Regions from separate parts of the Homo sapiens genome. Here region 2 is linked to region 1. The links come from fine-mapping of genetic effects on gene expression. A gene starts in region 1. The other region holds a variant in brackets. All regions are shown on one strand. Distances are between the middles of the regions. Region 1 holds the start of SCIMP (SLP adaptor and CSK interacting membrane protein). Region 2 overlaps SCIMP (SLP adaptor and CSK interacting membrane protein).

Region 1 (16,239 bases):
AGGCAGGCGGATCACATGAGGTCAGGAGTTCGAAACCAGCTTGGCCATCATGGTGAAACCCCTTCTCTACTAAAAATACAAAAAATTAGCTGGGCATGGTGGTGCACGCCTGTAATCCCAGCTACTTGAGAGACTGAGGCAAGAGAATTGCTTGAACCTGGGAGTCAGAGGTTGCGGTGAGCCGAGGTTGTGCCATTGCACTCCAGCCTGGGCAACAAGAGCGAGATTCCATCTGAAAAAAAAAAAAAAACACCGATCTCAAAGAGGGAGTTGTGAGAACCCCAACTTGAAGCTGGTTGCTCTCAAGTTCCAGAGGCCCGGACTTGCGACTGACGTCTGGGGAGTTGGGGGCAGCAGTCTTGGGAACTGAGCTGTGAGATCTGATACTATCTCTGGGTCTATAGTGCTGGCATTGAATTGGAGAACACCCAGCTGGTGTTCACTGCTTGGTGTGTGGCGGAAAAACCCTCACACATTTGGTCACAGAAGCCCTTTTCTGTGTTGGTGATTGTTGTGCTGGTGTGAGAACAGAGGAAAAACACCGCTTGCAGAGTTTTTCCTGAAACAATACTCTTTAGAGCGATAGAAATAAATACCACGACCTGCGCATTCAAAGCTGTTGTATCTGGATTGTGACTGCGTGGAAGGTCGAGGCGGGAAGACAGGGGCTGTTGCTTTTCGTTATAAACTCTGCATTACTTGATTTTTGCACTACGTACATTTACTTTGATAACACTGGAAAGAATAAATTGGCCATGTAGTGTAGCTTCCAAAAAAAACTATTGCTTGGGTTTCAAGGTCAAGGAAATTTCATTCTCATCAGTTTCTTGGGAAAGAGGAAGTGGAATGATGTTGTCAGAAAGTGAAACCATGGGTCATTTTCAGAACTACTCAGAGTAATAAATATTTTTTGTCAGTTTTGTTCTTACAAGTGAAATGGACCGCAGAGAGGCACTTTTTCTTTTCTTTTTTCTTTCTTTCTTTTTTTTTTTTTTGAGATGAAGTCTCGCTCTTGTACCCCAGGCTGGAGTGCGATGGCGTGATCTCGGCTCACTGCACCCTCCACCTCTCCAGTTCAAGCGATTCTTCTGCCTCAGCCTCTCCAGTAGCTGCGATTACAGGTGTGTGCCACCATGCCCGGCTAATTTTTTTTGTATTTTTAGTAGAGATGGGGTTTCACCATGTTGGCCAGGCTGGTCTCGAACTCCTGACCTCAGGTGATCCGCCTGCCTCAGCCTCCCAAAGTGCTGGGATTACAGGCATGAGCCACCACGCCCGGCCGACACATTTTTAATAGAACCAAGGAGAGCTTGCTTTTTGAGAGAGGGCAGCTGAGAGAGGGGGCCTAAGAGAATCACATCCTAGTTCCAGTAGGATGTCCTCTAGGCCACCAGGCTGGTTTAATGGCCAAGGTGCTTCCAGAGAGAGGAAGCCCTGGGGAAGGATGATAGAGAGTACAGAAAACAGGGAGTACACAATGGCTGCATGACCGAGTTCAGGCCCTGGGAAGGTATGAAAGCTGGATCCTACCTGTGCTGGCAGACCTGGAGTTGTTGCCACAGAGGGCCGATAAGATTGTGAGTACAGGACTACTGAGGGCTACTGAAGGATCGCAAAGAAGTGTTTGCACTGGCCGAGTGCAGTAGCTCATGCTTGTAATCCTAGCACTTCAGGAGGCCAAGGCAGGCGGATCACTTGAGTCCAGGAGTTCATGATCAGCTTGGGCAACATAGCAAGACCCTGTCTCTATATACACACACACACAACACACACACACACACACACACACACACACACTCTTACACTTAGCCAGGTGTGGCGGCATGTGCCTATAGTCACAGCTACTCAGGAGGTTAAGCTCCTCCTCAGCTACTCAGGGGGTTTCACCATGTTGGCCAGGGTGGTCTTGAACTCCTAATCTCAAGTGATCCGCATGCCTCGGCCTCCCAAAGTTCTGGGATTACAGGCGTGAGCCACCCTGCCCACCCAGAATGAACTTTCAAAAGGGAACAAGGATTAGAGAAGGGAGTGACACTGAATAGAACCAGAGAGAAGGGGCTTGGGGGCAGGAAGTTGAGAGCTCACACCTAAGTTTCCATTTCCTCTGAGGTGGGAGGCAAAGTCAACAGTGTGGGGGTTGAGGTGGGAGGGGTCCGGCTTGAGCAGAGCAGTGCAATAGCACGCACCAACTCCTCCACCTTCCAGCCCAGTCCCCATCCCCCATTCCCATGGCGCTTTCTTCACAATTTTAGTTGGTGGAGCCTCTCTCGTGAGGCCATCCTTTCTCCTTGCCTACCGCATCCCAAGAAGAACTCAGCTACGTGAAGGGATGTCACTACCCCCTGCAATATGTATATGTGAAATATGTTGGGCGCGGTGGCTCATGCCTGTAATCCCAGCACTTTGGGAGGCCGAGGCAGGCAGATCATGAGGTCAGGAGTTCAAGACCAGCCTGGCCAACATGGTGAAACCCCGTCTCTACTAAAATACAAAAATTAGCCAGGCATGGTGGTGTGCACCTGTAATCTCAGCTACTTGGGAGGCTGAGGCAGGAGAATTGCTTGACACTGGGAGGCGGAGGTTGTGGTGAGCCGAGATCACGCCACTGCACTCCAGCCTGGGCAACAGAGCTAGACTCCTTCTCCAAACAAAATTTTAAAAATGAAAAATAAGTTGGGCATGGTGGCACGCGCCTGTGGCCCCAGCTACATGGGAGGTTGAAGTGGGAGGATTGTTGGAGCCCAGGAAGTTGAGGCTGTAGTGAGCTGCAGTCACGCCACTGCACTGCAGCCTGGGTGACAGAGCCAAATCTTGTCTCAAAAAAAAAAAAAATGCATTGAGCACAGTGGCTCACACCTGTAATCTCAACAGTTTTGGAGGCTGAGGCAGGAGGATCACTGAAGGCCAGGAGTTAGCAACCAGCCTGGGCAACACAGCAAGACCTTGTCTCTACAAAAAAAATTAAAAATTTGCCAGGCAAGGTGGTGCATGCCTATAGTCCCAGCTACTCAAGAAGCTTAGGTGAGAGGATTGCTTGAGCCCAGGGATTCGAGGCTACATTGGGCCATGAATGTGCCACTGCACTCCAGCCTGAGTGACAGAGTAAGACCCTGTCTCAAAAAAAAAAGAAAAAACAGTGAAATGCATTTTTCTTCCAACTGAGCCTGTGACAGTGACAGTTGTCTCTTGGTGTATTTGTTCTTTTTATTTGTTTGTTCCTTGTCTGTCTCCCACACTGATGGGCAAGCAGCATAAGAGCAGAGGCTTTGCCTGTAATTACCACTGTGTTTCTAGCGCCTAGAACATCACCTGGGGCAGGACATACCATACATATCTGTGAATATACGAAAGAATGGATGATGCCCCAGTCTCTTTCCCCTGCTATAGATGGACCTCCCACCCGAGAATGCAGGCAGAAGTCACTTTGGGTCCAGTAACTGAAATTACTGTGCTGTGCAGTCTAATTCCAAAGCCTCATCTGGACACGCGACCCTGGGCAGGCTCCCCGTCCTGCGCTGGCCATTGGCTACTGGGGCCAAGAGGCTGGCTGGGAAGCAGTGGCAATCCAATGCTGGGGAGGTGGAGTTCCAGCTTCCCCTTTGTTTCTCCCCATTCCTCTAGTTGTCCATGACATTTTCAAGGAACATGAGTGAGCCTGTTGCAGTTCTGGGTGGTTTCAGTGGAAAGGATTTGGCAAGACCTTCCACAGTGAAGAGGGCGTGTGAGTGGGAGAGCAACTGAAGGCAGTCAACACATCAGCTTCACTTTCATTTCTCCAAAGGGCATTTCCAGGGTGTCAGGGACAGAAATCACATTTTCCTTCACCAGGAATTTCTGAGACTGTGGGTTTATTTAGCTTTTTTTTTTTTTTTTTTTTTTTTTTTGAGACAGAGTCTTGCTCTGTTGCCCAGGCTGGAGTGCAGTGGCGCGACCTTGGCTCACTGCAACCTCCATCTCCCCGGTTCAAGCAATTCTCCTGTCTTAGCCTCCCAAGTAGCTGGGACTACAGTCGCACGCCACCATGCCCGGCTAATTTTTATATTTTTAGTAGAGATGGCGTTTCACACCATATTGGTCAGGCTGGTCTTGAACTCCTGACTTCAGGTGATCCACCCGCCTTGGCCTCCCAAAGTGCTGGGATTACAGGCATGAGCCACTGCGTCCGGCGTATTTAGCATTTTTAAAAGAAGATCTTCAGTAAGAAATATGGTTTACGTTGTGATAGTTATTCACGTATTCACATAAATGAAGCGCTGAAGGGCCCTAGGCTGGCCATCAAGGGAACAAGTTCCCCTCCCCTCCCCTTCCCCCATCTCCTTTCTCCCCTCTTCTCCTTTCTCCTCTCTGCTCCTCTCCTCTCCACTCCTCTCCTCTCCGGTCCTCTCCTCTCTCCTTTCTCCTCTCCTCTTCTCTCCTTTCTTCTCTCCTCTCCTTTTTCTCCTCTCCTTTCCCTTCTTTTCCTTTTTGTAGAGACAAAAAAATGTTGTAGACACACAAAAAATGTTGCCTAGGCTGGTTTCAAACTCTGGGCCCCAAGTGATCCTCCGCCCCAGCCTCCCAAAGTACCAGGATTACAGGCATGAGCCACTGCACCTGGCCAGAGGGAATAGGTTTCCTGTTCCCACTTAGCTGTTGCACTTGGAATAAGATGCTTAACGTCTCCTTGCAGGCTTCTGAAAAGCTTCCAAGAGATGTTGCATGCAAAAGAGCTCTGTGTGCAGAAGATCACCAAGCATGAGGCATTATTAAGGGCAAACCAACCAAGTTCTATTTACAATAGCAAGTGTCTTCTAAGAAGGGCAGCTACCGACCAGGAGAGTCCCCTATTCTCCCTGCAGAGGATCTGCAGATCTGCAAAGCTGGCTGGGTTAGGAATGAAGTTTGCTGGTAGGAACTGGGGAATGTTGAATTCCTCTGGGTTATAGAAGGGGAGAATTTGGAGTTCTGGGAGGGAAGGTGATGAGAAGAAGGGATGGAAAGATGAAAAGGGAAGCCAGCAGGATGGTGCAAAGGTGGGAGTGAACCCGAGGGCTAGATTAGGCCTGCAGAACTTAACCTACCTTACTTGATTTTAGTCACTTGCTTCTAGTTGATCTTAAAACCTATATAGCTACTGGGGGCAGTGGCTCACACTTGTAATCCCAGCACTTTGGGAGGCCGAGGCTGGAGGATCACTTGAGCCCAGGAGTTCAAGACCAGCCTAGGCAACACAGCGAGACTTTCTCTCTACTGAAAATAAAAACAAAACAAAACAAAACAAAACAAAACCAGATGTGGCGGCATGTGCCTGTAGTCCCAGATACTCAGGAGGCTGAGGTGGGAGGATGGCTTGACTCTAGGAGATTGAGGCTGCAGTGAGCTGTGATTACCATCAGTGCACTCTAGCCTGGGTTATAGAGTGAGACCCTGTCTTTAAAAAAGAAAAAAGCCTATAGAGCTAAAAGTCATGTAGCTAAGCAATATTTAACTGGACTTCCACTAGCTTCCTGCTGGATAACATCTCTGACATATAGGTCATCATAGTAATGGTTGTTTAAGTTGTTTTTCAAGGGCTGGGCACGGTGGCTCACGCCTGTAATCCCAGCACTTTGGGAGGCCAAGGTAGGCAGATCACCTGAAGTCAGGAGTTCGAGACCAGCCTGGCCAAGATGGTGAAACCCCGTCTCTACTAAAAATACAGAAATTAGCCTGGTGTGGTGGCAGGCGCCTGTAATCCCAGCCACTCGGAAGGCTGAGGGAGAATCATTTGAACCCAGGAGGTAGAGGTTGCAGTGAGCCTCCAGGATCACGCCATTGCACTCCAGCCTGAGTGACGAGAGTGAAACTCCATCTCAAAAAAAAAAAAAGAAAAGAAAAAAAGTTGTTTTTCAGGAACTTGGGGTCAGCTCTTATCCAGTTCAAGCCACTTATGACCATCAATCCTTCAACTTGGTCTGTGTGAGTGTCCAGTAGGTGACGTTTGATGTCAGAGCGCCAAAAACTCCATCTTCCATCATGCTAATGCCACCATTTTGTGAACCTGCATCCTATGAAGAACGATGAAGCTTGACTAGGCTTGCACAGATTGCCGATGTCCTACTTTTCCCTCCAATCACCTTCCCCACACCTTAGGCCACCTGCTTCTTTGTCCCATAAACGTCTCTAAACCCCATCTTCGAGGAAGTGGGTTTGAGACCTGTTTTCCCATCTCCTCACTTGGCTGCCTCATGAATAAATGCATTCTGTGCTGCAAAACTGGTCATCTTGGCGGGACGCGGTGGCTCACGCCTGTAATCCCAGCACTTTGGGAGGCTGAGGCGGGCGGATCACGAGGTCAGGAGATCAAGACCATCCTGGCTAACACAATGAAACCCTGTCTCTACTTAAAAAATACAAAAAATTAGCCAGGCATGGTGGCAGGCGCCTGTAGTCCCAGCTACTCGGGAGGCTGAGGCAGGAGAATGGCGTGAACCCGGGAGGCGGAGCTTGCAGTGAGCCGAGATTGCGCCACTGCACTCCAGCCTGGGCGACAGAGCGAGACTCCGTCTCAAAAACAAAAAAAAAAAACTGGTCACCTCAGTGATTGGCTTACTGTGCGATGAGCAGAATGGGCCTCATTTGGTATCAAGAGGAGGAGCTGATAGAAAATGCTCAGGGATGGGCTGGCAAAGACATTTTCAGAGCAGCGCCGTGTTATGTTCTGTGTGCAGTTGTTTGCGCTGATGCGTTACAAGCCCCTCTGGTGGTCCCCCGCTGAGTCTTTGGTAAAGTCTGCTGCATCTGCCAATTCTTTTGTGAGCAGATTTGTTCTAGGGGTGTGGGGGACTAAGAAAGGGGTGGAATATAAACAGTGCAGTGTAAACAGTGCAGTATAAACAGTGCAGTATAAACAGTATAAACAGTGCAAACAGTGCAGTGTAAACAGCGCAGTGTAAACAGTTTTACCCACAGAGGCTGCAGGCCCATTGCTGACCATGGAAAAAGAGGTGGGCTCCTCGGGAGTCCACAGAAGTCCTGGGGAGGGCTTTGGACTTCGGCAGGCCTGGAATGAGGGTTCGAACTAATCTCAGTCTAGATCTCGAGGGTCTGAGAGGCTGTAGAGAACATTTAGGCCGGTTGGCATGAGCAGTTCTTGCCCCAGTTCACCTCTAATTCCCCGACTGTTGCTGTTCATGCTAAGTGAGGCCTTGTTCCCACTCGTTCTTCTTCTTTTTTTTTTTTTGAGATGGCGTCTTGCTCTGTCACCCAGGCTAGACTCCACTGGTGCAATCTCAGCTCACTGCAACCTCTACTTCCTGGTTCAAGCTATTCTCCTGTGTCAGCCTCCTGAGTAGCTGGGATTACCGACACGCACCACCATACCCGGCTAATTTTTGTGTATTTTTAGTAGAGATGGGGTTTTGCCATGTTGGCCTGGCTGGTCTCAAACTCCTGACCTCAAGTGATCCACCTGCCTCGGCCTCCCAAAGTGCTGGGATTACAGGCGTGAGCCACTGAGCCTCGCTCCACTTGTCCTTCTCACTGATGTCAGCACCAGAAATGGCCATGTGGATAGTCACTGGCAACTTAAAACCCAAGTGTGCATGGGGAAGTGCACGGCAGGGTCATTAAAAGGAGTCCAGCCTCTCTTCTTCCCTTCTCTATACTTTCACTTCTGGAAAAGACCGGAAACCTTGCCTCATTCCTCTTTCTCCCATGGCCCCATCCCCACCCCGCTTCAGCCCATCAGCCTCCAAATGTAGTCCAAGTCCTCATCTCTGTACCTGGACCATTGCATTTTCGCTGGCCCCTAGCCCCCACTGGGCTCCCCACTGGCTGCCAAATACCAGTGTGACCCTGTCCCTTCCTTGCTTTAAGCCTCTCAGTAGTTTGTTTGTTTGTTTTTGAGATGGAGTCTTGCTCTGTCACCAGGCTGGAGTGCAGTGACATAATCTTGGCTCACTGCAACCTCCACCTCCCGGGCTCAAACGATTCTCCTGCCTCAGCTTCCCGAGTAGCTGGGGCTATAGGCGCCCACCACCATGCCCAGCTAATTTTTGTATTTGTAGTAGAGACAGGGTTTCACCATGTTGGCCAGGCTGGTCTTGATCTCTTGACCTTGTGATCTGCCCACCTTGGCCTCCCAAAGTGCTGGGATTAGAGGCGTGAGCCACCATGCCCCGCCTGCCTCTCAGTAGTTATTTACCACTGAAGCAGAGTGAAGCCTGTGCTCCACATTGCTTCATGGCCAAGACCTCAGGGACAAGTGGACACACCAGGCAGTGGGAGTGGATATGGCAAAGCCAAACCCAGATCTCTTCTCAAAATAATTTTCCAGAGGGCAAAAGCAGATGGCTACACCGAGAACTCACGCCAGCCCAACACACTTTGATCTCGAGGCCTCTGGAAGGGAAGGTGCCTAATGAACTACTGAAAGCCAGAGATGCAATGACAAAGGTACCAAGACTGGAGGTGATCCAGGTCTTTCATCCAAGAGCCCCAAGACGTAGCCTAAATTCATGCTACGGTAATCCCAGCACTTTGGGAGGCCGAGGCGGGCGGATCACCTGAGGTCAGGAGTTCGAGAGCAGCCTGGCCAACATGGTGAAACTCCGTCTCTACTAAAAATACAGAAATTAGCCAGGTGTGGTGGCGGGTGCCTGTAATCCCAGCTACTCAGGAGGCTGAGGCAGGAGAATCGCTTGAACCCGGGAGGCGGTGGTTGCAGTGAGCCGAGATCACGTCACTGCACTCCAGCCTGGGCGACAAGAGCGAAACTCCATCTCAAAATAAAATAAAAATAAATAAATTGACACAGTCAGTGCCTCGCTCCCACCCCCACCTCCAGCATAGCACCATGACAGTCTTCTCACATAACAAGTCCCAAAACACACCATCGGCATCCAGAAAGTGAGAGTAACTCGTTACAGTTGAGACCTCTCACTCCCGGTCATTATCTCATTTCAATCCAAGAGGTAGACTTCTTCATCGCCCCTGACATACACATGAGGAAAAGGCCCAGAGAGGTGAAGTGATGCCTCAGGTCACTCAGCCAGTTACCAGTAGAGCAGATCCTTCAATGCAAGTTTTTCTCCAACCCTACACAGCAGTCGTACCAGGGCCCCAGGCTGCAATCCCCTGGCCCAGTGCTGATCGGTGGCTCCCAGGGACACGCCCTGATGCCAGCGCTGGCAGATGTCTGCTGTGAAGAGAGCAGGAAACTGTCCCTTGGAAAGCTGAGATGCTTACCTGAACTGTGAAAGTATCCATATGTGAGCAGCTAAGGAGACAGCAGTGGCTGGAGTGCTGCAGCTCAGGCACAGCTGGTGAGAGGCATTCCTCACTCACAGGCCTTCACCCACTGCTAGAGACAGTGAGCCCCATCCTGACCACTTCCCCTTTCTAGTCAGCCCACGGGGCAGAGACCCTGGCGTCATCTCTAGGCAACCATCCCTTTTCCAGGGAAGCTCATGACCCACGGCTGTCCAGAAGCCAGAATCTTCTCACTGCCCCGTGTCGCTCCCGCAAGGCCTACCAGAGGACCCTCATGGTGTGGTAGGGGGTCCTGGCAGGGGCCAGGGGCCAGGGTGGAGACTTGGCAGTGGGGGTGGGTTTGGTGTCCCCACAGACGAGTTTGCCGTGAGCATTCCTGGATGTGGCAACCTCAGTCTCAAGAAGAGCGACAGGACGCCAGCTCCCATGCAGAGACAGATCCAGGTAAGAAACCAGCTCATGTGTGACAAACTCACCATCTCACCATGAAGGTGACTCTTGAAAGCTCCTGTGCACCTTGGAACTGCTGAGACATCTTCTGCTTGGAGGAGGCAAGGGACAGGCTTCCTGTTTCTAAAGGCGTGTGAGTGGCGACCTTGAGAAATGTGGCCAGTGGAGCATTTTGACTGAGTTGGGTCCCCTCGTGCAATACTGTGAGACAGAACTCCCAGCGAGGCCCACGGCCTCTGACCATGGGGGTTGGAGTGGGGAAACCAATTAGCCATTTTGTTGAATTGGCTGGTTCTGACTCAAATGAGCAGTCACATTAGTAAAAATAGGCAAACGGATGTGCATTGTATTTGCCCAGAGCGAATGAGTTGTTATCCATTTCAGTAATAATGATAACCAGATATGTCTGATAAATATCTGATAATGTCTGATATATGTCTGGTAAATTTAACAAACACCGGGCTCTGGCTGGGTGCGGTGGCTCACACCTGTAATCCCAGCACTTTGGGAGGCCAAGGCGGGTGGATCACCTGAAGTCAGTAGTTCGAGACCAGCCTGGCCAACATGGTGAAACCCCATCTCTACTAAAAATACAAAAATTAGCTGGGCATTTTGGTGTGAACCGGTAGTCCCAGCTACTCAGGAGGCTGAGGCGGGAGAATTGCTTGGACCCGCGAGGTGGAGGTTGCAGTGAGCCAAGATCACACCATTGCGCTCCAGCCTGGGCAACAGAGCAAGACTCTATCTCAAACAAACAAAACAAAACATCTGGCTCAGAAGATTCCTGATTTGCAGTGTTTACTAATTTCTTTTTTCTTTTTCTTTCTTTCTTTCTTTTTTTTTTTTTTTTTTGAGATGCAGTCTCACTCTGTCGCCAGGCTGGAGTGCAGTGGCTCAATCTCAGCACACTGCAACCTCCGACTCCCAGGTTCAAGCAATTCTCCTGCCTCAGCCTCCCAAGTAGCTGGGACTACAGGTGTGTGCCACCGCATCCGGCTAATCTTTGTATTTTTAGTAGAGACAGGGTTTCACCATGTTGGCCAGGCTGGTCTCGAACTCCTGACCTCAAGTGATCCACCTGCCTCGGCCTCCCAAAGTGCTGGGATTACAGAGTTGAGCCACTGCACCTGGCCAAGGCCTGAACTCTTTCTTCTTAGGCTCATCCAAAGTTTAGCTGCTAAAAAACCTTCCTAAAAGCCAATTTAAAATTTTCTTCTAGGCCGGGCACAGTGGCTCACGCCTGAAATCCCAGCACTTTGGGAGGCCAAGGCAGGCGGATCATGAGGTCAGGCGTTTGAGACCAGCCTGGCCAACATGGTGAAATCCCGTCTCTACTAAAAATACAAAAATTAGCCAGGCATGGTGGCAGGTGCCTGTAGTCCCAGCTACTTGGGAGGCTGAGGCAGAAGAATCGCTTGAACCTGGGAGGCGGAGGTTGCAGTGAGCCGAGATCGAGCCACTGCACTCCAGCCGGGGTGACAGAGCAACACTCCGTCTCAAAAAAAAAAAAAAAAAAAATTCTCTTCTGAGGGGTGAATAAATGCTTCTGTGGATAGAGCTCATCCTAGGCTAACAAAGCTGTGACTTCTTGGTTTGTGTTTCATTCATTCATTCAATAAATTACTCAATAAATTATTTTGCTAACCTTTAAGGACCTCAGTTCAGCTGTGATATAGTAAACTCTGTAGCCCTACTATTTCTAACAATGCCTTTTGCACAGCAAGTTCAAGCCTGAGGTGTCAGGTGATCAGAATTCCAGGCCCGGTTTGACAAAACTTTCTTTGTGAATCCTTCCCTTCTCTGAGCCTCAGTTTCCTTGTTGTAAAATGAAAGAATTCAATTGACAAATATGAAAGTGCTCCAGGGATTTTGCCATCTGCCTTCAAGAAAGTCCCGCAAAGTGTAGGAGGAAGTTGAAGCCATAATATGATGCAGGCTAAATACAATGACCTTCAATTTGTGCCAGACCCTGTGCTCAACAAGTAGAGACTCAGAACTGGGCAAGTCATTCATGGGTAGAGCACATGGCACATGTTCTACAGGACAGAAGGCACATAAGTTATTACTATGCAAAGTGATGAATGCTAGTGCTGTGGAAGCACAAAAGTGGGAGAGAAGAAAGGGTCTGAGTGGTAGCATTTGAACTGGGCCTTGAAGGATGTGTAGGAGCTCACCAAATGGACAGAATGTGGACAGACACAAAGCAGCCATAGTATTTGGAGAGAAAGAGATGGTTGCATGGCTGATCAAGAGTGAATGTGTTGGGCAGTCAGAGGCTTGAGAGCAAAGTTTAGGGACACACACCACGGCATCTGGATCTACCCACTTCCTTGCTATCTACATTCTTCCCCGACTCCACCATTTGTCTTTCCACCACAAGAGGAGGGCAGGAAGTTGGGGCGGTTGTGTTCTTTCTGCACATCTGAAATGCCACCTGCTGGTCTGGGCAACTAAAGAGGTCCCTGAGGGCCCTAGATTAGCGGCTGGACCAGAGGGTGTCAAGGAGAATGAAGGGCACCCTCTAGTGGTCACCTGTGGTGCTTTCTCCTCAGGATTCTGGTCCCTCTGACCTCCCCGTAGGGATGGCTGGACACACAAGATGTTCACCTCTTAAAGCTACAGAGACCATCAGGCTAGAGGACACTCAGAAGGGATTCCAGTCCACCCTTCATCTCATGACTCAACCTTTTTGTCAACATCCGGGTGGCACCCAGCTTCTGCCGTTTTGTTTCTTCTCACTCAGTCATCTAAGTCATGTGTAAAATGAGGTGTTATTCTTTGTGCCACTCACAAGTGTCAATTAATCCCCATCATGAGAAAAAAACTGAAGAAAGAGAAATCATAAGATACAACATATAATTAGAACATTAATAGATTTTATTGCAGTTTTTAAAAAGGTGGGGGTTTTTGTTTGTTTTTGTTTTTGTTTTTGAGACAGAGTTTCGCCCTTATTGCCCAGACTGGAGTGCAATGGCGCGATCTTGGCTCACTGCAACCTCCACCTCCTGGGTTCAAGCAATTCTCCTGCCTCAGCCTCCAGAGTAGCTGGGATTACAGGCATGCGCCACCATGCCCTGCTAATTTCGTACTTTTAGTAGAGATGGGGTTTCTCCATGTTGGTTAGGTGGCTGGTCTTGAACTCCTAACATCAGGTGATCTGTCCACTTCAGCCTCCCAAAGTCCTGGGATTACAGGCATCAGCCACCACTCCGGGCACAATAACTCATCTTTAAAGAGCTCTGAGAGCAATATGGGTGGCCAAAGCACTCAGGTGGAACCAGAAGTCATCACTAAGCAACCGTGGCTGCTTTGTTTGTCCCTAACAATAGCCAAGCAGATGTTGTAGCTCCTCTGTCTCCCACCCTGGCCCCATGACATTGAGGTGGGGTCGTTCCAGCTCAGATGTAAAAAGGCAAGTGTATAAGTATTTGGGGTTGTGGCAGGAGGCAGCCGTGTCTTGTGTATGAAGGGAGTCCCTGCCCACTTCTCCCCATTTCTGGAGGTAAAGATTCCCATGAAAGGTACTAGGAGCATTGGGCCCCTAAACCCCAGAACCCATGAGTATGTTATTTTAGATGGTGAAAGGGATTTTGCAGATATGACTAAGGATTTTGAAGTGGGGAAGTCATGCAGGATTATCGACATGGACCCCATGTAATCACAAGATCCTTCTGAGAGGGATACAGGAGAGTCAGGGTCAGTGGCAGGGGATGTGCTGGCAGAGGCAAGAGACTGGGGAGATCCGAAGAAGGGGTCTCGAGCCAAGAAATGCAGGCAGTCTCAAGGAGCTGGTAATGGCTGGGCAATGGATTTTCCCCTGGGACAGGGATGGAGAGACAGCAGTGATTTCAGTTCTCACTCTTGAACCTTCTCTCTTCTTCGTTCCCAAACATGAGTCCACCAGCCCCATTACCACTCAACTGACTGGGAGCCACATCAACCATAACTCTTATGATTTACCAGTTGTAATACTTAAGCATTTTCTGTGGCCTGGCAATTTATTTATTTATTCATTTATTTTTGAGACGGTCTCACCCTGTCACTCAGGCTGGAGTGCAGTGGTGCAGTCGTGGCCCAACGCAGCCTCGAACTCCTGGGCTCAAGCGATCCTCTCACCTAAGCCTCCCAAGTAGCTGGGACCATAGGCATGCACCACCACACCTGGCTAATTTTTAAATTTTTTGTAGAGATGGGGGTCTCGCTATGTTTCCCAAGCTGGTCTCAAACTCCTGGCCTCAAGAGATTTTACCGCCTCGGCCTCCCGAAATGCTGGGATTACAGACATGAGCCACTGTGCCTGGCCTGGCAATTTAACCCAACTCAGTCATCTCTCCTCTGGACACTCTCCCCATGACATACTTTGCAATGGTTTTAAAATATGCTCATACATTTTTTTGACACTCCTCCCATTGAGCTGTGGGAATCTATGTCCCCTCTACTCAAAAGTGGGCTGACGTTAGTGACTCACTTATAACACTGACTGTAGGGGAAGGAAAGCTGCTTAACTTTTGAGGATAAAAAATTATGCAGCTTTGGGCGGGACGCGGTGGCTCACGCCTGTAATTCCAGCACTTTGGGAGGCCGAGGCGGGTGGATCATGAGGTCACGAGTTCAAGACCAACCTGGCCAGTGGAAGGTCCCCTGAATGGGCTACCCCATGGTCGAGCCATTGTGACCCCTGTGACCCACACGTTACAGGCCTCCTGGAGTCACAAAGCCTGGAGCAACAGGAGAACCACTAAAGAAGACGGAACAGCTAGTTCCTGCCTTAATGATTAACCGACCTTGCAACAGTCCACCTTGTGATATGTTCCTGCCCTTCCCCAACTAATCCATCCACCTTGTGATATGTTCCTGCCCTTCCCCAACTAATCCATCCACCTTGTGATATGTTCCTGCCCTTCCCCAACTAATCCATCCACCATTGTGACATGTTCCTGCCCTTCCCCAACTAATCCATCCACCATTGTGACATGTTCCTGCCCTTCCCCAACTAATCCATCCACCTTGTGATATGTTCCTGCCCTTCCCCAACTAATCCATCCACCTTGTGATTGTTCCTGCCCTTCCCCAACTAATCCATCCACCACTGTGATATGTTCCTGCCCTACCCTAACTAATCCATCCACCTTGTGATATGTTCCTGCCCTTCCCCCAACTAATCCATCCACCACTGTGATATGTTCCTGCCCTTCCCCAACTAATCCATCCACCTTGTGATATGTTCCTGCCCTTCCCCAACTAATCCATCCACCACTGTGATATGTTCCTGCCCTTCCCCAACTAATCCATCCACCTTGTGATATGTTCCTTCCCTACCCTAACTAATCCATCCACCTTGTGATATGTTCCTGCCCTTCCCCAACTAATCCATCCACCTTGTGGCATGTTCCTGCCCTTCCTCAACTAATCCATCCACCACTGTGACATGTTCCTGCCCTACCCTAACTAATCCATCCACCTTGTGATATGTTCCTGCCCTTCCCCAACTAATCCATCCACCTTGTGGCATGTTCCTGCCCTTCCTCAACTAATCCATCCACCACTGTGACATGTTCCTGCCCTACCCTAACTAATCCATCCACCTTGTGATATGTTCCTGCCCTTCCCCAACTAATCCATCCACCATTGTGACATGTTCCTGCCCTTCCCCAACTAATCCATCCACCATTGTGACATGTTCCTGCCCTTCCCCAACTAATCCATCCACCTTGTGATATGTTCCTGCCCTTCCCCAACTAATCCATCCACCTTGTGATTGTTCCTGCCCTTCCCCAACTAATCCATCCACCTTGTGACATGTTCCTGCCCTACCCTAACTAATCCATCCACCTTGTGACATGTTCCTGCCCTACCCTAACTAATCCATCCACCACTGTGACATGTTCCTGCCCTACCCTAACTAATCCATCCACCTTGTGATATGTTCCTTCCCTACCCTAACTAATCCATCCACCTTGTGATATGTTCCTGCCCTTCCCCAACTAATCCATCCACCACTGTGACATGTTCCTGCCCTACCCTAACTAATCCATCCACCTTGTGATATGTTCCTTCCCTACCCTAATTAATCCATCCACCTTGTGATATGTTCCTGCCCTTCCCCAACTAATCCATCCACCTTGTGATATCGTGCCTTATGACTTCCCCCACCTTGTGACTATGCACCTTGTAACATTCTTCCCCTGCCCAAAAAAACTGCCCCTAACTGTAACTTTCCACTACCTACCCCAAACCTATAGAACCAGTTCCACTCCCACCACCCTTCGCTGACTCCTTTCTCTGACTCAGCCCACTTGCACCCAAGTGAATAAACAGCCTTGTTGCTCCACTAAGCCTGCTCAGGTGGTCTCTTATACGGAGGCGTGTAACAGCCAAGATGGTGAAACACTGTCTCTACTAAAAATACAAAAATTAGCCGGGCGCTGTGGCGGGCACCTGTAATCCCAGCTACTCGGGAGGCTGAGGCAGGGGAATCGCTTGAACCCAGGGGTGGAGGTTTCAGTGAGCCGAGATCAGGCCACTGCACTCCAGCCTGGGCAACAGAGTGAGACTCCA
Region 2 (16,239 bases), 25 kb before region 1:
TAATTTGTAAAAAAAAAAAAAAAAATACAGAGGGATCTAGTGTTAAAACAACTTAAAGGCTGTTAGTTTATAGTTCACTTTGTAAATGAGAGTTTATTTTTACCAGTTTAGGGCTTTTTAAAATTATTCATAGAATATTTAATTGTTCAAGTGTAGCTGATCTAAAACTTTAATGGCATTAAATTTTGGCAATGGAATATGTTGATCAGGCTGGGCGCAGTGGCTCATGCCTGTAATCCTAACACTTTGTGAGGCCGAGACAGGTGGATCACCTGAGGTCAGGAGTTCGAGACCAGCCTGACCAATATGGCGAAACCCGATCTCTACTAAAAATACAAAAATTAGCCGGACGTGGTGGTGGGAGCCTATAATCCCAGCTAGAAAAAAAGAAATACGTTGGTCAATATGAGAGGTTGAGTTTTACAGTTGAAGGGGAAGGGTGCAGCGATATTAATTGGCTGTTTCTGACAGTAGTTTGGCACATAGTTGTATGTACACTCTGCTCCAGTAAAATGAAATGCGACCACAGTCAACGGTTACCTATTTATGCTGGAGGGTGTTTGGCAATCAACTGTTAATTTAAGTGAGATTCCATTCTGCCGCTTAGCCATGGCAGAGCACACACATGTGCACTCAGGGAAAGCAGATGGAATAGGTTATAAACAGAAGCAAACTCCAATTCAGGAGACATGTTCACGCAGAAATAGTACTATGATGCAACATACATCACAAAAACAAATGGAAATTGTGTTTGTTTGTTTTTGAGATACAGTCTTGCTCTTTCGCCAGGCCAGAGTGCAGTGGCACAATCTCAGCTCACTGCAACATCCATCTCCCAGGTTCAAGCGATTCTCCTGCCTCAGCCTCCCGAGTAGCTGGGACTACAGGTGCGCACAACCACGCCAGCTAATTTTTGTATTTTTAGTAGAGACGGGGTTTCATCATCTTGGCCAGGATGGTTTCGATCTCCTGACCTTATGATCCGCCTCAGCCTCCCAAAGTACTGGGATTACAGGCGTGAGCCATGGCGCCCGGCAAGAAATTTTTTTTTAAATCTGTCTTTAGGGGATTATCTAGCTATTAGTGGGGTTAAATGAGGGAACTGTCGCCTCGGCAGAAGAGATGGTCCACTGTATTCATTTGTCATAATAACCAGACTCCTGGAGTTACTGGGTTCTAAAGTTGTTGATACAGCATGAATAGGTTTGGATGTGGAGTTCTGTATGGAGGATCCTTTCAACGGGAAGATAAACCAAAATTGTTGGTCGTAGCCTTTTGGACTACTGACTTAAGAGATTATTTGAATCTCTTTAAAGAGTCAAAATTGGCTGGGCGCGGTGGCTCATGCCTGTAATCTCAGCACTTTGGGAGGCCAGGGCAGGTGGATTGCTTGAGGTCAGGAGCTCAAGACCAGGCTGGCCAACATAGTGAAACCCCATCTCTACTAAAATACAACGATTAGCCAGGTGTGGTGGTGGGCACCTGTAATCCCAGCTACTTGGGAGGCTGAGGCAAGATAATCGCTTGAACCTGGGAGGCGGAGGTTGCAGTGAGCTGAGATCGAGCCACTACACTCTCAGCCTGGGTGACAGAATGAGGCTCTGTCTCACACACAAAATAAGCCTGTATTGTTGTAAATAGATTGTGAAGGGTGATTCTGGTGAGGGCTCAGAAGAAGAGGAGAGCTACAGAGAAAGCCTCAGTTTTCTTAGAGATTACCTAAGAGGTTGTACCAGAAGGCTAGTAGAAGTATGGATGTTAAAGGCCATTCTGATGAGGTCTCAGATGGAAATGAAGAACATGTTATTGGAAACTGGCAGAAAAATGATCCTGATTATCTGGCAAAGAATGTGGCTGAATTGTATGTCCTAGTGTTTTATGGAAGGTAGAAATTCTGAGTGATGAAATAGGATATTCGGTGGAAAAAATATCTGAGTAAAGTGTTGAGAGTGCGGCAAAGCTTCTCTTGAATGCCTGTAGTAAAATGCTAGCAGAGAGAAACCAATTAAAGATGGTCTTTCTTTCTCTTTCTCTCTCTCTCTCTCTTTCTCTCTCTCTCTCTCTTTCTTTCTGAGACAGAGTTTTGCTCTTTTTGCCCAGGCTGGAGTGCAGTGGCGCGATCTTGGCTCACTGCAACCTCCACCTCCTGGGTTCAAGTGATTCTCCTGCCTCAGCCTCCTGAGTAGCTGGGATTACAGGTTTGTGCCACGACGCCTGGCTAATTCTGTATTTTTAGTAGAGACGGGGTTTCACCATGTTAGCCAGGCTGGTCTCGAACTTCTAACCTCAGGCGATGTGCCCTTCTCAGCCTCCCAAAATGCTGGGATGACAGGCATGAGCCACCGCCCCCGGCCAAAGATGTTATTTATGATTTAAAAAGCAGCAGAATTTAAATATTTAGAAATTTACCAACCTGCCCATGTTGTAAAGAATGAAAAAGCTTGTTGAAGAGAAAACACCAAGAATGTGACCAAGGAAACTTTTGATAAGGAGGTTAGTGTGGGGAGATGGAAGCCAGATGCTCAGCATCACAGCGAAGAAGGACCCTGAAACCATTCCGAAGATCTTTAGAGGCTGCCCTGCCCATCACAGGCCCAGAAAACTAGGACCTTGAAGTCAAAGCGATTTCAAGGCTCTGCTCCCTGCATTCTGGTGCAGGGCTCCTGGCATACCCTAGCTGTGACTCAAGTGGGCCCAGCTGTGACTCAGGCCATCCCTCTGGGAGGCATAGACAGTAAAGCATGGTGGTGTCCAAGCAGTTTTATCTCCACAGCTGCGCAAAGTGCATGGGCTGTGAGGGCATTGCTACCTCTACCTAGATTTCAAAGGATTCCTGGGGGAATCTTGAGGCCCAGACGGAGCACCGCCAAAGGGGCAGGGCCACTGCGGAGAGCCCCCACTAGGGCAATGCCCAGCACAGCCATGGGGACGGGGGTGCCTCCAAGACCCCAGAATGTTAGGGCCACCAGCGTGCAACTCCAGCCTGGGAAAGCTGCAGGTCCGAGACTCCAACTCATGAAAGCTGCAGAGTGGGCTGTGCCCAGCAAAGCCATGGGGGGGCCGCCCCGAGTCTTGGAGGCCCAACCCCCATCCCAATATCTGGGGGGTAGGACGTCAAGTCAAACATTATTCTCAAACCTTAAGACTTAATGTTGTTTGCCATGTTGAGTTTCGGACTTACTTGGGACCCATCACCCCTTTCTTCTTTCCTATTTCTCCCTTTTGGAATGGAAATTTCTATCCTATGTCAGTCCCACCATTGTATTTTGGAAGCATACTTACATTGTATAAGTAGTTTGATTTCACAGGCTCATAATTGGAGAGCAATTTGCCTCAGGATGAATCATATCTTGACTTTTGCCCAGACTTGGAATGAGTCAACATTTAGTTGAGATGTTGACTTAGACTTTAAAGCTGTTATTGGAATGAGTTAAGACTTTTAGGGCTATTGGGATGGAATAAATCTATTTTGCATTTGAGAAGGACATGGATTTTGTGAGGTCATGGGCAGAATGCTATGGTCTATGTTTGTGTCCCCACAGAATTCGTATGTTGAAATCTAACCCCCAAGATGATGGTATTAAGAAGCAGGGTGTTTGGGGTGATTAGATCATGAGGGCCCTGCCCTCATGAATGGGATGAATGCCCTTATGAAAGAGGACCCAGGCTGGGTGCGGTGGCTCATACCTGTAATCCCAGCATTTAGGGAGGCTGAGACAAGAGGATTATTTGAGTCCAGGAGTTCAAGACCAGCCTGGGCAACATAGTGAGACTCCATCTTTACCAAAAAAAAGGAAGAAAGAAAGAAAAAAAATAGGCCGGGCGCGGTGACTCATGCCTGTAATCCCAGCATTTTGGGAGGCCGAGGCAGGTGGATCATGAGGTCAGGAGATCAGGACCATCCTGGCTAACATGGTGAAACCCTGTCTCTACTAAAAAAATGCAAAAAAATTATCCAGTTGTGGTGGCAGGTGCCTGTAGTCCCAGCTACTTGGGCGGCTGAAGCAGGAGAATGGTGTGAACCCAGGAGGTGGAGCTTGCAGTGAGCTGAGATCATGCCACTGCACTCCAGACTGGGCGACAGAGCAAGACTCCGTCTCAAAAAAAAAAAAAAAAAAACAGCCAGGTGTGGTGGCATGTGCCTGTAGTTCCAGCTACTCAGGAGGCTGAGGTGAGAGGATCACCTGAACCCAGGAGTTTGAGGCTGCAGTGAGCTATGATTGTGCTGCTGCACTCCAGCCTGGGTGACAAAGTAAGACTCTGTCTCAAAAAATAAAATAATATAAAAGAGGCCCCAGAAAGCTGTCTTCCCCTTCTATCATGTGAAGACACGGTGAGAAGGTGTGAAGCACAGAGTGAGCCCTCACCAAACACCAAATCTGCTGGCGCCTTGATCTTGGACTCCCCAGCCTCCAGAACTCTCAGCAACATTTCTGTTTTTAACAAATTATCCAGTCTAAGGAATTTTGTTATAGTAGACCAAATGGACTAAAACCCTGGGTATGTGGACCACTCCAGGCCAATGAGACATTAGGGAAAGTTGCTGGGGGCTCACCTCCCTAATAAAACGATACAGCCAGGCGCGGTGGCTCACATCTGTAATCCCAGCATGTTGGTAGGCTGAGGCAGGTGGATCATGAGGTCAAGAGATCAAGATCATCCTGGCCAACATGGTGAAACCCTGTCTCTACTAAAAATACAAAAATTAGCTGGGTGTGGTGGTCCCAGCTACTCAGGAGGCTTAGGCAGGAGAATCGCTTGAACCCAGGAGGCAGAGGTTGCAGTGAGCCAAGGTCGCACCACTGCACTCCAGCCTGGTGACAGAATGAGACTCCATCTCAAAAAAAAAAAAAAAAAAGATACATGTTAGTAATGCACATTTTCTTTCTAACTTTGAATGTTATCATGTACAGATGCTTGGAGCTGTGGCAGCTATTTTGCCACCATGAGGATAAGGCTAAGCAATTTGAAATTAGTCCACACCCCTAAATTATGGAGCTGCTGAATTCTGGAGTGTTTACCTCTAGACTTCTTGCTTTGTGAAATTATAAACTCCTCATTGTGTAAGTTATCTTTAGTTGGATAGTCTGTTCTTTGCAGCCTAAAGCATCCTATCGAATACACATGATTTGTAAAATTTGTTGTTGGTAATACCAGTGCATTTCCTGAAAACAATCTTGTTTGTATTGCAAAGAAGATCAGATAGTAATTATTATAAGGAAAACTATAATCCACTGATTTGTGGTATGAGTAAAGCATCAGTTCTTTTTTTTTTTTCAAGACAGAGTCACTCTATCGCCCAGGCTGGGGCACAGTGGTGCGATTTCGGCTCACTGCAACCTCCACCTTCCAGCTTCAAGTGATTCTCCTGTCTCAGCTTCCTGAGTAGCTGGGATTACAGGCGCCCGCCACCATGCCCAGCTAATTTTAGTATTTTTAGTAGAGATGGGGTTTCACTATGTTGGCCAGGCTAGTCTCAAACTCCTGACCTCAAGTGATCCGCCTGCCTTGGCCTCCTAAAGTGCTGAGATTACAGGCATGAGCCACCGCACCTGGCCAAGCATCAGTTCTTAAAACAGTTAAGGTGGCAGAACAGGAGTTCTTTCAAAATGATGATTTTCAGTATTTGTGGGTATTTCAACATCATCATAGTCATCTTCAGGTTCAATATAGCTCAGGATGGAAACTATCTCCTTATTTCTTTTTTTTTTTTTTTTGAGACAGAGTCTCACTGTTGCCCAGGCTGGAGTGCAATGTCATGATCTTGGCTCATTGCAACTCTGCCTCCCAGATTCAAGCAATTCTCCTGCCTCAGCTTCCCAAGTAGCTGGAATTACAGGTGCCCGCCACCATGCCCGGCTAATTTTTTGTATTGTTAGTAGACACGGGGTTTCACCATCTTGGCCAGGCTGGTCTCGAACTCCTGACCCCCGGTGATCCACCTGCCTCGGCCTCCCAAAGTGCTGGGATTCCAGGCGTGAGTCACTGCGCCCAGCCCTTATTTCTAACTTTATTTATTGATGAGTATGTATTCAATAGGTAACTTGGGGATTCCTGTGGTGCTGGACTATACAAAAAGATCCTATTAAATCTTGATATATTTAAATCTCATCCAAACTGGTAACAATTTCCCTAGTAGAAAACTTGGCTTTATTATACGTTCCCAGTATAAAATCTCAGCCAAATTACACATGTCCAGAGGAAAAAAAATTGTTTTGTCAAACCAATTGGTAGATTTTCCATGAATGTTCAACAGTCAATAAATATTGCCTACCATGTGCCAGGTTTTGTGCTGGACATTGGGAATACAGCACTGAGACAATTTCCATCCCAAAGGAGCCCCCAGATTAGAAAGGAGGATGGAAAGTAACCAGGTAATTATAATTATAATATATAATAATTATAATACAAAGGGAGAAGTATTTCCATAGGGCCAAGTATGGGAGCTGTGAGAGCTCAGAGTTCATTGATTCATTCATTCAACCCAGTTGATTATTCAACATATTTATTGAGCATCTACAATGTACCTGGGCACTGTGCTAGGAACAGGGAAAACAGTAGAGGAAAGAAGGACACATTCCCTGCCCTCATGTTGCTTTGGGTCTAGTGGAGGAGAGAGACAGATAAGCAATAATTATAACATGCTAATGCTATGAAAGGAGAGCATCCAGGAGGCACCAACCCAAGTTGGGTCATGAGGAAAGGGTAGCCAAGATGAAATGGGAAGGATCCAAAGGTGGGGAAGAATGTTTCATACAGAGGAATAGCGCTGTGCACAGGGCAAGAGGGACCATAGTGAAGGTCATTTTATTTTATTATTATTATT[T/A]TTTTTTTGAGATGGAGTCTTGCTCTGTCACCCAGGCTAGAGTGCAGTGGTGCAACCTAGGCTCACTGCAACCTCTGCCTCCCAGGTTCAGGTGATTCTCCTGCCTCAGCCTCCCGAGTAGCTGGGATTACAGGCATGTGCCACCACACCCGGCTGCGTTTTGTATTTTTAGTAGAGACGGGGTTTCACCATCTTGGCTAGGCTGGTCTCAAACTCCTGACCTCATGATTCACCCACCTCGGCCTCCCAAAGTGCTGGGATTACAGGTGTGAGCCACTGCGCCCGGCCTGTGAAGGTCATTTTAAGTGGCTGGAGCAAAAAACTTGGGCAGAGTGGAGGTTGCAAGGGGGTTGGGGGAGAAGAGTTTGGCAAAAGATAATCAGTGACCAGATCCTGACAAATCTTGTAAGCCATGTTAAAGAGTTTGGTCTTTTTCTGGGGTTAACGGGCAAAGAGAAGATTTAAGCAAAGGAATGAAGTGGTCAGATGTTCACTTTAGGAAGTCACTGGGTGCCATGTAGAAAGTGGACGGCAGGTGAGGTGCCAGAGGCAGGGGAGCAGTCAGGGGGCTGTTGATATTCTCCTGGCAAGCGCTGGCAATTGTCTGACCTCAGAACAGTGACGGAGAGACGTGGACTCATTGGAGAACCACGTGGGAGGCACAAGTAACATGGGGAGCTCTGGAAACAAAGCAGTGTGGGGAGAAGGATACTAGTTTCTGACTTCAGCAACTAAGAAGATAGTAGAGCACAAGACATTTGGGACTGGAGGTAGGTCATCAGTTCCTTTTGGTGTTTGCTGAACTTGAGGGGGTGTGTGGGGCAGTCACAACGAGATGTCTTAGAGGCAACCCAGCTGGGGAGAAAGAGCTCAGCTGAAGTCAGAATAGAGGGGGCAGCTGGGCGTGGTGGCTCACACTTGTAATCCCAGCACTTTGGGAGGCTGAGGCAAGCGGATCACTTGAGGTCAGGAGTTCAAGACCAGCCTGGCCAGCATGGTGAAACCCCGTCTCTACTAAAAACAAACAGAAAATTAGCCGGGTGCAGGCGTGTTGGCACACACCTGTAATCCCAGCTACTCAGGAGGCTGAGGCAGGAGAATCGCTTGAACTTGGGAGGGGGAGGTTGCAGTGAGCTGAGATTGTGCCACTACACTCCAGCGTGAGTGACAGAATGAGACTCAGTCTCAAAAAAAAAAAAAAGGAGGGGCCCACTGAGCTCATGGACATTGGTGAGATCACTCGTGAGTGTTGGAGGCAGATGGGCAGAGACACAGGGACAGAACCTGAGGAAGACCAGCATTGAAGAGATGCTTCAGAAAGAGTGGGTGGCCCCAAAATGAGACGGAGACAGGAGGAGAACCAGGAGAGGGTGGCGTCCCAGAAACCAAGGAAGAATCAACATTTGTCTGGCATTTGTTTTTAACTTTTGTCATAGTCATGGAGGGTTTACAGAACATTTATAAGACGAAAGCATGTGTTTGAAACACTCCAATCCTTTGGCTTATTTTTGTTCTATAATTTGGGAAGAGTCCTCTCTTTGGCTGGTGGGATACCAGAGTCCCATAAGGCCATAGTTAGATAACTACTGGCCTAACATAAGGAGGGTTTATTTATTTATTTATTTATTTATTTTTAGATGGAGTTTCACTCTTGTTGTCCAGGCTGGAGTGCAATGGCATGTTCTCGGCTCACCGCAACCTCCGCCTCCCAGTTTCAAGCGATTCTTCTGCCTCAGCCTCCCAAGTAGCTGGGATTACAGGCATGCGCGACCATGCCTGACTAATTTTGTATTTTTAGTAGAAATGGGGTTTCTCCATGTTGGTCAGGCTGGTCTCGAACTCCCGACCTCAGGTGATCCGCCCACCTTGGCCTCCCAAGGAGGTATTAATAGCAAGGTGGAAGCCTTCATAGAGTCTGGAAAGAGAGAACCAGGGAGGAAGCCCAGGTCCCCAGTGCTCCAGCGTTGATTGAGGGAGAAAGCTTGAAAATGGGAGGAACACATTTTCCCATCTCTTGAGGGAAATCTGAGTCACTCTCAGGCCTTTCCAGGTTCACAGTGCTCTCTCTGCAAGGCTGTTCATTTGCCAGATTTCCCAGAGGTCACTTAGAAACCAGCATCTTGTGAGTATAGTTAGAATGAGTCAAGTCCTAGGGCTCTGGCGATCAGCTAGAAGGAATTGATGAGGTCTAAGAGCCTATAAAGCTGACTCGGGCCTTGTTGACCCCATTAGGACACTTGTTTAACAAGACATCTGCCCATGTCCCTGGCCCATCTCATTGGCTGCAGCACATCACAGTGGACCTTCTGCCTCCTCCCAGATGCCCAGGGACAGTGATCTGGAAGGAAGGGGCTTGAGGCTGTTTTCCTAGAACTCGAGTAAGTACTGATGAAAATGATGGACAGGGGATATTAAGCCCCCTGAACTCTCATCTTGTATATGCCATTGTTACATGCCCCTTTTCTTTCCTGTTCCCCATGATTTGTCCTGGGGGAAATGTATTTTTCCTGTAGCACCCCCAACACACCTATTGCAAAATGATGCTTCTAGGTGTAAATCAGAAGGTAACTTTTGTCCTTTGTCCATTGTTACAGTACAACTTGCAAGCACGGGGAGAAAACCTAGGTGAAAACTCAAATCTCTATGGTCAATTTGGCCTACATCATATAAAGGCACTGGGGTTTGCAGGGTGTCTAGGTGGGGAGGGTTCACGAGAACAAAAGGTACTCCCTGCCCTTGCAAACTCGCGAGATGTGGTGTGGGAACCTGGGCACGAGAGCACTCAGCTGTAACTCACCCACAGCCTCACAGTGCAGGAGGTGGGTGGGGTGAGAGGGTAAAGACCAGCATGCTTGGTGAGGGCCTTGCTGGGGATGGGAGCCTGGGAGGGTCTGCACAACCAAATGCTGAGATTTAATATCACTCAGAACCATGCAAACCAAAGGGAATGAAGGGGGAAAGAATGCCAAGAAATGAGTAGTTTCCCACAGGTGGGAGCCATGGAGCCCCGTGGTCCTTCCCATGGAAAGTTTCCTCAACAGCACAAGGCTGACCCCTCTAAGTCCTCAGAGCCGAGCACCCATGTGTCTCCTCTGGCTGCAGTCATCCGATCGCAGGGGTGTCTTCATCTAAGGTTTGGGAAGTGCTTTATCTTATAGAGCTTCATAAAATCACCACTGGCTTTCAGGGCCCAGAGACCTACTGAAGTTCAACCATTCTTGATTGTTTTAAAATAAGTTGTGTGAACCCTCTTCAGTTTTGCCAAAAAGAAGAAATGGCTGTTTCAAAATGATGCTTTTTCAGTATTTGCAGGGATTTCAACATCGTCATAGTCATCTTCAGGCTCAATGTAGCTTGGGATGGAAACAGTCTTCTTATTTTTAACTTTATTTACCAGTGAGTATGTAGCGGGCGGCTGACTTGGGGCTTCCTGTGGGGCTAGAATACACAAAAAGCTCCTTAGATGCAAAGCTGTCATGTGTTTTTATATTTTTGAAGGCAGTGGCTCAGCGTGATTTTCACGTTTCAGTGATCTTCCCACTTCTAGTGGGCCAGATCCCCATTTTACAGAGGAAATTTAGACACAGACCTGACAGAGCCTCAGGATCACCCAAGTGAGTAACTGGAAAATATTAGTCAGACATCTTGACTCCCGTATCTTTCTGCCTAAGCCTGCACTGCATGGAAACCATGAAGCAAAAGCTTAGAAAAGAAACAGACCAGGTCAGGTGCAGAAGCTCACACCTGTAGTCCCAGTACTCTGGGAGGCCCAGGTGGGAGGATCACTTGAGCCCAGGAGTTCCAGACCAGCTTGGGCAACACAGGGAGACCCTCGTCCCTACAGAAAAATTTAAAAATTAGCCGGATGTGGTGGTGCATGCCTATAGTCCCAGCTAATTGGGAGGCTGAGGCAAGAGGATTTCCTGAGCCCAGGAGGTTAAGGCTACAACGAGCCATGATCACGCCACTGCACTTCAGCCTGGACAACATGGTAAGACCCTGTCTCCAAAAAAAAAAAAAGAATGGATGAAAAGAAACAGACCAGAGCCCAGTAGTCATATGAGTGCTGTTGTGTTACAGATCCTAATTTTTACAAGGAAGTGAAACAAATCATATTTCCTTTTTGGCACATCCCTTCCAGTGACTTACACTGTTTTCCAGGACTCTCTGTAATTGCTTATGTACAAATCTCTCTAAGAAGAAAGGGGATGGCGTTGTTTTCAAAAGGTGGAATTAGTACAGAACAGGTTCATAGGAGGCTGGGGCGCGGTGGCTTATGCCTGTAATCCCAGCACTTTGGGAGGCTGAAGTGGGCAGATCACCTGAGGTCGGGAGTTCGAGACCAGCCTGATGAAACTCTGTCTCTACAAAAATACAAAAATTAGCTGGGCGTGATGGCGGGTGCCTATAATCCCAGCAACTCGGGAGGTTGAGACAGGAGAATTGCTTGAACCCAGGTGGCAGAGGTTGCAGTGAGCCAAGATTGCACCATTGCACTCTAGCCTGGGCAACAGAGCGAGACTCTGTCTCAAAAAAAAAGAAAGAAAGAAAGAAAAAGAAACAAAAAACAAACAAAAAGAACAGGTCCATAAGTAATAGAAGGATGATGAAACAGCTCAGCTCCATCTTTGATGGGGATTGGAACTGCCTCTCCCACAATCTCATCTTTTCCTAAGAAAACCTGAAATGCCACTATTTGCAGAACTCTGCAGTTTGACAGACCAGAGTTCATGTTCACGTTCCAGCAGTCATTAGCTGTGTGACTATAGGTAAGTCACTTATCTGTGCCTGAGCATCCTCATCTGTCACAGAGGAATAAAAATGTACCTGGCTTGGGCCGGGCGCGGTGGCTCACGCCTGTAATCCCAGCACTTTGGGAGGCTGAGGTGGGTGGATCACGAGGTCAGGAGATCGAGATCATCCTTGCTAACATGGTGAAACCCCATCTCTACTAAAAATACAAAAAATTAGCCAGGCATGGTGGCAGGCACCTGTAGTCCCAGCTACCCAGGAGGCTGAGGCAGGACAATGGCATGAACTCGGGAGGTGGAGCTTGCAGTGAGCCGAGATTGCGCCACTGCACTCCAGCCTGGGCGACAGACCGAGACTCCATCTCAAAAAACAAACAAACAAAAAAATGTACCTGGCTTGTAGAGTTGTGAGGAGTGAATGAGCTAATACCTGTAAAGTGCTTAGTGTGGGACCTGAAACACAGCGCATGCTCAATAAATGTTAGCTAATATTATTTATCTATCCAATCAAAATATTTTTCTTAAGTATCGACTGAGCCTCACGCCCTGTTCTAGGTAGTGGATAAATATTAATAGTGGTGGACAAAAAAGGTTCCTGTGTTCCTGAAGTTTATACTCCAGTGGAGGAGATCAATAATACATAAATGAACAATAAGTAAATAACACAATTTTGGATAACTGTCAGTTTCATAAAGGAAATTAGCAGAACTACTTTAGGTTGAGTGGACAGAGAGGGCCTCTTTGAGGTGGTAACTTCTGAGCTGACATCTGAAGGATGAGGAAAATCCAGCGAGGCAAAGAGCTTAAGGAAGAACATTCCAGTCAAAGGAACCAGGCAGAGTTTTTCTGATAGGAAGTGAAAGGCCTAGTGACACCCCATGTTTCTTTCTGTTTATGTTCCAAGCTGGGATTTGAACATGAATTTACACCCTTATATCAGGCTATTGGGTGCGTCGGTACTTATGCTGCCCCCTTTTTGCTTTTCCATCCCTTTTTTTTTTTTTTTTGAGACAGGGTCTCACTCTGTCGTCCAGGTGCAGTGATGCTATCGTGGCTCACTGCAGACCTCCCAGGCTCAAGCGATCCCCCCACCTCAGCCTTCCAAGTAGCTGGGACTATAAGTGTGCACCATCACGCTGGCTAATTTTTGTAAAGATAGGATTTTGCCATGTTGCCCAGGCTGTTCTCAGACTCCTGAGCTCAAGTCATCAGCCCGCCCTGGCCTTCCAAAGTGTTGGTATTACAAGCATATGCCACTGTGCCTGGCCTCTGGCTATCTCTTTTAAACAGGATGCTGGCTGTGTGTGGTGGCTCATGCCTGTAATCCCAGCACCTTGGGAGGTCGAGGCGGGTGGATCACTTGAGGTCAGGAGTTCAAGACGAGCCTGGTCAATATGGTGAAACCCCGTCTCTACTAAACATACAAAAAATTAGCTGAGTGTGGTGGTGCACGCCTATAATCCCAGTTACTCAGGAGGCTGAGGCAGGAAAATAGCTTGGACCTAGGAAGTGGAGATTGCAGTGAGCTGAAATCATGCCACTGCACTCCAGCCTGGGTGAGAAACCAAGACTCTGCCTCAAAAATAAAATAATCAGGATGCTGCATCTATAAATCCTAGTGTTACAGACTGAATGTTTGTGTCCCCCCAAAATTCAGGTGTTCAAGCCTTAACCCCCAGTGAGGCTATATGTGGCCATAGGGATGAGGCCTTGATCCAACAGGATCAGTGTCCTTGTAAGAAGAAACACCAGAAATCTGACTCCCTGATGCTCTTCCCCAGCTTGAATGCACCAAGGAAAGGCCATTTGTGGGGACATAGCAAGAAGGCAGCTGTCTGCAAGCCAGGAGGAGAACCCTCACCAGAAACCTCACAGAAATCGGCCAACACCCTCATCTCGGGCTTCCAGCTTCAGAACAACGAGAAAACAAATTTCTGTTGTGTAAGCACCCCAGTCTATGGTATTTTTGTTACAGCAGCCTGAGCTATCTAAGACACCTTCATAGGGGACGGGCGTGGTGTCTCACACCTGTAATCCCAGCACTTCGGGAGGCCGAGGTGGACAGATCATGAGGTCAGGAAATTTAGACCATCCTGGCTAACATGGTGAAACCCCGTCTCTACTAAAAATACAAAAAATTAGCCAGGCGTGGTGGTGGGCACCTGTAGTCCCAGCTACTCAGGAGGCTGAGGTGGGAGAATGGTGTGAACCTGGGAGGCGGAGCTTGCAGTGAGTGGAGATCGCGCCACTGCACTCCAGCCTGGGGGACAGAGCGAGACTCCATCTCAAAAACAAAAAAAAGTGGCTCACGCTTATAATCCCAGCACTTTGGGAGGCCGAGGCCGGTGGATCACGAGGTCAGGAGATCGAGACCATCCTGGCTAACGCGGTGAAACTCCTTCTCTACTAAAAATACAAAAAATTAGCTGGGCGTGGTGGCGGGTGCCTGTAGTCCCAGCTACTCCGGAGGCTGAGGTAGGAGAATGGCATGAACCCGGGAGGCGGAGCTTGCAGTGAGCCGAGATCGTGCCATTGCACTCCAGCCTGGGTGACAGAGCAAGACTCCATCTAAAAAAAAAAAAAAAAAAAAAAAAGACACCTTGATAAACTCGTTATCTTACCCTAAATGAAACTGCTACCAGTAAAATATACTTACAAGAGTCTTCTAGAGAAGGCCAATTCCTCGGTGGCAGAGGCGGTAATTGAACTGGCGACTCATTAAGAACATTCCTAGAGAGAGAGAAAGAGAGAGAATCAGTGTTTGGTTTGGGCCATGCCTGCTCCCAGCCGATTTAAGAGAAAACATCAAGGAAAGTGAATGGGTTGAACATTCAAATCTTGGTCTCTACTAATTGGAAGCATTTCCTTTCCTTTGTAGGTCCTGGTTCCCATTTGTAATTGGCACCCTAATGAAACCGTTTTCTGTAGCCCTGGAAATGGCTGAAAATGAGGGGAGGGAAATAAAGTGCTATAATTCAGAGCATGGAGCACACCTTCCTGGTTCACCTGAGCTGGATTCGGAGAGGTAGGCACCAGATGTATTTCTATTTGCAAAACAGATGAGCCGGGCATGGTGGCGCATGCCTGTAATCCCAGCACTTTGGGAGGCCGAGGCAGGCGGATCACCTGAGGTCAGGAGTTCAAGACCAGCCTGGCCAATATGGTGAAACCCTGTCTCTACTTAAAAATACAAAAATCAGCTGGGCATGATGATGCTCACCTGTAATCCCACCTATTCGGGAGGCTGAGGCAGGGGAATCACTTGAACTTCGGAGGCGGAGGTTGCAGTGAGCCGAGATCATGCTACTGCACTCCAGCCTAGGCAACAGAGTGAGACTCTGTCTCAAAACAAACAAATAAAAAAACAAAAAACAAAAGCAGATGAACTCCTAAAGCAGAATGTACACACACCTTGAGTCAGCATTTCCACTACTGGGTCTACAGACTATTGAAATGCTCGCATCTGTTCACCAAAACATGCATTAGAATGTTCAGAGCAACACTATTCATAACAGCTCTGAATTGGACACGACCTGTATTAGTCTGGGTTGTCCAGAGAAGCACAGACACATAAAATTTGCCATCACACAACTCAAATGTCCATCAGCAGTAGAATGGATAGATTAATTATGGTAAAGTGACTGGGCAAGGTGGCTGACATTGGTAATCCCAGCACTTTGGGAGGCGAAAGAGGGAGGATGGCTTGAGCCCAGGGGTTTAAGGGTAATATAGGGAGACCCTGGGCAACACAGGGAGACCCAGTCTCTACAAAAAAATCAACATAATTAGCAGGTTGTGGTGGCATACACCTGTAGTCCCAGCTACTCAGGAGACTGAAGCAAGAGGATCACTTGAGCCCAAAATTTGAGGTGACAGTGAGCTATGATTGCACCACTGTACTCCAACCTGGTTGAGAGTGAGACCTTGTCTCAAAATAAATAAATAAATAAATAAATACTGGTGTACTCCCACGGTGGAATGTTCTATAGCAACAAGAATGAACAATCTACAACTACACACAATGAATCTCATAAAAATGATGTTGAGCAAAAAAGCCAAACACCAAATAATATATACTATATGATGCCATTAATAGATTGCATAAAAACCAAAAAGCTGCTGGGCACGGTGGCTCATGCCTGTAATTCCAGCACTTTGGGAGGCCAAGGCAGGCAGATCATGAGGTCAGGAGATCGAGACTAGCCTGGCCAACATGATGAAACCCAGTCTCTACTAAAAATACAAAAATTAGCCAGGTGTGGTGGCGCATGCCTATAATCCCAGCTACTCAGGAGGCTGAGGCAGAAGAATTGCTTGAATCTGGGAGGCGGAGGTTACAGAGAGCCAAGATCGCGCCACTGCACTCCAGCCTGGGCAACAGAGTGAGACTCCATCTCAAAAACAAAAAAACAAAAAACAAAAAAAACCCAAAAAGCTAATTTATACTATCACAGACAGTGATTGCCTTTGGGATGTAATGGTTGAAAGGCTGTATAAAGTCAGCCTCTGAAGTGCTGGTAACGTCCTATTTCTTGATCTGGGTGCCAGTGACCTGGGTCTGTTGAGTTCGTGGAAATTCATCAGGTTGCACACTCAGTATTTCCATTTTCCTGTATTTATATGATACTTTGGTACAAAGTTTTAACTAAAAGATAAACTCTA

The links. PIP is the estimated chance that this variant, and not a neighbour inherited with it, causes the effect.
Region 2: its variant is fine-mapped to the expression of SCIMP in whole blood (TOPMed, PIP above 0.99).

The regions. Positions count from the first base shown.
Region 1 is chr17:5,225,528-5,241,766 of GRCh38, forward strand. SCIMP (SLP adaptor and CSK interacting membrane protein) reads right to left here and starts at 9,333. Exons shown (of 5, transcript NM_207103.3): 1 at 9,208-9,333. The coding sequence starts at 9,228. It overlaps ZNF594-DT (ZNF594 divergent transcript), which reads left to right. Exons shown (of 6, transcript NR_152840.1): 6 at 9,587-10,476. RefSeq lists a silencer at 574-774 and enhancers at 9,575-9,774, 11,720-12,019.
Region 2 is chr17:5,200,692-5,216,930 of GRCh38, forward strand. SCIMP (SLP adaptor and CSK interacting membrane protein) reads right to left here. Exons shown (of 5, transcript NM_207103.3): 4 at 14,234-14,307; 5 at 8,229-10,264. The coding sequence ends at 10,110. It overlaps ZNF594-DT (ZNF594 divergent transcript), which reads left to right. Exons shown (of 6, transcript NR_152840.1): 2 at 9,059-9,204; 3 at 13,359-13,518; 4 at 14,456-14,602. Among named protein-coding and RNA genes, the nearest start is that of ZNF594-DT, 17 kb to the left of the region's middle. RefSeq lists a silencer at 7,738-7,917. The variant T/A (reference allele first, on the strand shown) is at 6,827.